Regions from separate parts of the Homo sapiens genome. Here region 1 is linked to region 2. Evidence: fine-mapped expression QTL. Tissue or cell type: whole blood. Region 2 holds a variant in brackets; the other region holds the start of a gene. All regions are shown on one strand. Distances are between the middles of the regions.

Evidence for each region. PIP is the estimated chance that this variant, and not a neighbour inherited with it, causes the effect.
Region 1: C8orf58 starts here. The variant in region 2 is fine-mapped to the expression of C8orf58 in whole blood (TOPMed, PIP above 0.99).

What each region holds. Positions count from the first base shown.
Region 1 is chr8:22,598,343-22,600,953 of GRCh38, reverse strand. It overlaps C8orf58 (chromosome 8 open reading frame 58), which reads right to left and starts at 1,355. Exons shown (of 7, transcript NM_001013842.3): 1 at 1,194-1,355; 2 at 1-72. The coding sequence starts at 1,233. RefSeq lists silencers at 956-1,415, 1,446-1,545, 1,911-1,970 and an enhancer at 2,357-2,611.
Region 2 is chr8:22,568,279-22,571,029 of GRCh38, reverse strand. It overlaps SORBS3 (sorbin and SH3 domain containing 3), which reads right to left. Exons shown (of 21, transcript NM_005775.5): 17 at 1,757-1,882; 18 at 1-120. Among named protein-coding and RNA genes, the nearest start is that of PDLIM2, 11 kb to the left of the region's middle. The variant C/G (reference allele first, on the strand shown) is at 1,684.

The DNA of each region.
Region 1 (2,611 bases), 30 kb before region 2:
CGGGGATCCGTCTGTAGGTGCTGGTGACTCCAGGCACTATGCAGCCCCGTGCCAGGCCCTCGCCAGCCCCATCTGCATGGAGAGTCAGCGTCAGGCTGGGCAGGCCACCCCCAACACCCCCAGCATTCCTGAAGGCTGGCAGCACTGCCCCAGGGAGAAGTGTCCCGGAGCAGTGAGGAAGGGCGGTCACTGGACAGCCACGGGCAGCCCGGATATGGCCCCAGCTGTCTGGGAGATGTGTGGATGGGATTCCCTTCGCAACGGTTGTTAGCGACAGGGAACCCGTGCTCTGAGCTGTGTGGTAGGCAAAGCCCTGGCAGGCCACATCCATCAATCCCTTAGACGGCCTGCGCCTGCGCTTCCCACCTAGGATCAGCCCACGATCTCCCGAGTCAGAAGTAGGGAGCCACAGGCTCTTCCGCTGCTCCCCAAGCGGGAGTAGGACTGTATCCAGCTTCAGGGAGAGGGGAGAGGGTACAGAGAGGAAAGCCTGGGATCCAACCTGCTCTCTGGGGGCCCCTGCGGCATCAGGATGCCAGGTGAAGTCTCTCCTGCAGCTCACCGGGAGAGTGATAAAAATCACCGCTATAACCGATTTGGGCTTTTGTTGTAAGTGAGCAATAGTGAAGATTTTATGAAAAGTTTAAAATGAAAGAACTGAAGTGAAAGAAAGGGACGAAGGGGCAGCATTAGCACCCCCTCACTGTCACCTCCGCCAGGCCCTCTGGCGACGGGGCGTCCTGGCGGAATGAACGGTACGGGAAACAGGCTAGGGGGGCGGGGACGAGCTGCGGGGCACGCGGGAGCCGAATGCCAACCCAGGCCCCTCTGGGCAAGGAAGTGGGCCAGGAGGTCACTGGGTGGGAGAGGGGTCCGCAGCCACGGAGGGGGCTGGGGCGCGGGCGGATTCCCACATCCTCAGAAGGAGCGGGAAGGCGAGGGAAGCGGAGCCGGAGGAAGTGGGGCGGAGGCGGTGGCTGGTTTAACGCCTGGGCCCAAAGGGGTTCCAGCCTGCATGGCGTCCCCTGATGACCGCCCCTCCAGGGAGGCGGCGAGGGAGGCGCAGCGGCGCGGGCTCCGCCCGCGGGGTGCGCGGGGCTGGGCAAGAAACTGAGAGAGGGTGCCCGGCTTGGGGGCGGGAAGCGGCTCCGGGGCAGGGGGGAGCCCGGCCAGCCTGGGGGTGGGTGACTCACCCCGGCCGTCCACGGCGAAGGCGCGCCGCCGGCCCATCATGGCCCGCTCCCGGCCCCGGCCCCGGCCAATGCAGCCGCCCGAGGATCCCGGCCCGAGTCCCCGCGGAGCTCGGGCAGCTCAGGGAGCGCGTCCCGACCCAGCTGGGCGCGGCCCCCAGACACTCCCAGCGGGGCTGGGGGGGCGGGGAGCGGGGCTGGGGGGGCGGGGGGCGGGGCGGTGGGGGGCGTGGCCTAGGGGGAGGAGAGAGGAAGAGCGAGACGAGGAAGGGAGGGGCGAGGAGAGAGGGGAGGGGCGAGACGAGGGAGGGGAGGGGCGAGGCAAGGTAGGGGAGCGGCGAGAGGAGGGGAGGGGCGAGGGGAAGGGGGAGGGGCGAGGAGAAGGGGGCGAGGAGAAAGGGGCGGGGCAAGACGAGGGATGAGAGGAACGAGGCGAGGGAGGGGAAAGGAGAGGGAGGGGAGGGGCGAGGAGAGGGAGGGGAGGGGCGAGGAAGAGGAGGGCGAGGGGAGGGGAGAGGAGAGGGTGGGGAGGGGAGAGGGAGGGGAGAGGGGAGGGGCGAGGAGAGGGTGGGCAGAGGAGAGGGAGGGGAGAGGGGAGAGGGGAGGAAAGGAGAGGGGAGAGGGGAGGAGAGGAGAGGGGAGAGGGAAAGGGGAGAGGAGAGGGAGGGGAGGGGAGAGGAGAGGGAGGGGAGGGGAGAGGAGAGGGGAGGGGCGAGAGGAGGGAGGGGAGGGGCGAGAGGAGGGAAGGCAAGGGTGCCAGGTGGGGGGCGCAGGTGGCCGGGTCGCCAAGAACGAGGTCGAAGGCACGGACTGGGTGGCGCCCCCAACTGTGGCTGTGGCCAAAATAAGGGTCCCGATCAGCTGTTCTGCGAGGACCCGGCCCCCGCCTGGGGACGCCGTCTGGCTCGGGGCGCCGGTCCGCCCGGCCCCGCGGGTTCACACGCAGCGTCCGTCTTCCTGCCGCGGACTTAGAGCCGGGGCTGGCTGGAGGACCGGACAAGAGCCAGGAAGGAAATGGGAGCCCCACGTGCTGGCGGTGGGAAGAGCGCTGACCAGGACGCGGGCACCCGGCGCTCCCTAGCAGTGTGGCTTGGGGGCCAGTCTCTTGGCCGCTCGGAAACCTGGGCGATGGGAGGGGAAACGATCCTGCCCACCGGGAAATCTTTTACAACTGCAGAACGCGCGTGTGTCCTCAGCTAGATCTGAACCCCCTCCCGGTCCCCTGCCTCTTTCTCATCCCGGGCTCCCTAAAGCTGGGGACTGGGTAGGTCTCAAGGTCTGGAAAGATGCGAGCCAGCGGGGAGCCGCCTGGAGACTGGGCCAAAGTGTAAATGTCCCCCTGTTCCCACCTCACCCTGCCTTTGGCCCGTGGGATTCCACCCCTCAGTCCCCAACCTAAAAGGAGCCCAAGAAGCTACTGA
Region 2 (2,751 bases):
CCGGGGTTCACGAGACACCTGCACGTAGCTGGCAGGGAATATGCCTTGGCGCCCCGTGCCCGTGATGCGTCCCTCGTACCAGTTCTCGTTCACCTTGCGGATCAGGCAGATGTGCTCTCCCTGAGGGGGGAAAAGTCAGTGTCTGTGGGGCCTTCCTGGTGCCATGGACCCACGGGTGCCTTATCTGGGCTGTCTCATTCAACCCTAACACCTTGGACACACGAGGGGTCGGAATCGCAGGGGGCCAGCAGTTTACCCGAGTCACACGGTAAGAGCAGGAGCCAGGAGCCAAGCCCAGGCTGCCCAGGCAAGGCTGAGGCTGAGACTGGGTCCTGCCTCTTGGAAGCTCAACGGGTGTGCATCCCCCTTCGGCGTTCATAGCAAGGTCCCTCCCCAGAGCTCCGATCACAGGTGAGCCCGTGGCTAATAATACAGATCCAAACCCAGCTCCACCAGGCCAAGCTGTGTGGCCTCAGGCAGCCTGCTCTGTCTCTCTGAGCCTTGTTTTCTCCTATGTTAAGTGAAAATAACCATACTGTCACTATGAGGTGTGAACGAGATCAACAGTCCACTCCTTAGACACACTGGACAGGTGCTACCACTACTGCCCTGCCTGGGTCCTGTTCCTGCCTCACGCTGGGGGACCTTGTCATGAGCGTGTCAAAAACACACTCCCCAGGACAGGCAGGGAGTCCTGAAGGCCACAGGCTGGCTGACATTAGGTAGAACCACCCCCTGGGAGGGTGGCCTCCAGCCCTTGCCTTCCCCTGTCCTCTCCTGCCCCCATCTGTCTCCATCCAGCCACCTTCTTCCCCCTCTGTCCCTGGGGCCAGCTCTTCTGGGAGGCATTCACTATGGGCCGTCTTTCGCTTATTTTGGGAGCATGATCACTGCTCCCAAAATCAACCAAAGGCAGACCACTTCCCTGCTTTCTAGAACAGCATTTTTCAAACTTGTTTCACCACAATCTACAGTTAAAAATGTTTTAATAACAGCCCAGAATACATATATATGTGCATACACAGAACTGCCTACGGTATGATAAAGTGCTTTCTGCTCGCAACGCATGCTAACATTTCTGTCTATACCTTTAAAAATGCTGAGTATGATCCCCTGCAACCTGCAGTTGAAAAAATATATATGTAACTCTAGAAGTTTATGATGATCTTTTAAAAATGGACCAAAATTACTTGGGAGGCTGGGGCAGGGACAGGGGATCGCTTGAGCCCAGGAGTTCAAGGTCAGCCCGGGCAACATAGTGAGATGCTGTCTCAAAAAAAAGCAAAAAAAAGCCACTACACTAAAGGAAGCATAATGAAAGAGACTGGGGAAAACTTTGAAATCCTGGGTGAAGCTAGGTACATCGGACTCTTTTTTAAAGAAGTGTTTTTAGGCCAGGCGCGGTGGCTCACGCCTGTAATCCCAACACTTTAGGAGGCTGAGGCGGGTGGATTATGAGGTCAAGAGACTGAGACCATCCTGGCCAACATCGTGAAACCCTGTCTCTACTAAAAATACAAAAATTAGCTGGGTGTTGTGGCGCGTGCCTGTAGTCCCAGCTACTCGGGAAGCTGAGGCAGGAGAATTGCTTGAACCCGGGAGGCGGAGGTTGCAGTGAGCCGAGATGGCACCACTGCGCTACAGCCTGGCGATAGAGTGAGACTCTGTCTCAAAAAAAAAAAA[C/G]TGTTTTTAGTGCACATATTTACCTACATCTTCACCTGCCCCCACCCACCCCTCCGTCTCCGGCCTGGCCCACCTTGCGGAAGGACAGCTCCACCTCCAGGTCCCCCTTGAAGGTGTACTGGGCCACAGCCTCTCCATACTCCAGCACCTGGTAGGTCGGGGGCTTGATGGGCTTAGGGATCTCATCTGCGGGCAGCACCTGCATGAAGAAAGGTCATGAGAAAGATTTGGCCTGGGCATCAACATAGCACAGGCTGGGGGTTCCTGTGAGACAGCAAAGAGAAGGTGGGCCCGCCCCTAGGCAGAGAAAAGATATAAACACCAGACACAAGCCCTGGGGGCAGCCACGGGTGGGCACAGCCAAAGGGTGCTGGAGGATGGGGAGGAGTCTGGGAACGCTCCCTGGAAGAAGAATTTTCCATAGGGATATATGGAGTGGGCATTACTGAAGTGAAGAACTCCAAGAGAAAAGATGGAAGCCAGTCCAATTAGAGAGTTTAAGTTGGACCACAGAAGAAAATGAGGCGTTCCAAGCAGCAAGGGGAACTTGGGGAACTGTTCCAAAACTGAGCATTCACCCTTTTCTCACTGCTGAGAACCGGGTGTCCCTGGGTTCCAGCGTCTCGGTTCTTCCTCCCCATCTACCCCAGCCGGAGCCCAGAATCCTCACGTTCTCTTTGCTTCACTCTGCCCATAAAAATCAAGCAGCCAATAAACCATTTCACACAAAGATAGAAACGACTGGCGGAGTGAAATACTGTATATACTTTGTGAAATTTCAGGACCAAGTGGATCATCGTGTAAGCAAGGGAGGCCTAATGATACCTATCAAAACAAGAGCCTGAATTAAACAACAACCCAACCCATGGGTCAAAGAGGAAGTCACAGACGAGATGAGAAAACAGTCAAGAGTTGATGAAAAATCAAAATGTGTGAGATGCAGTTAAAGCAGCATTCTAGGGAAAAATGTTTCAAATCAATAGTCTAAACTTTCATCCTAAGAAACTTAGAAAAATAACAAATTAAACCAAAAGCAAGCAACAATAAGCAAATAAGAAGCAGAACTCA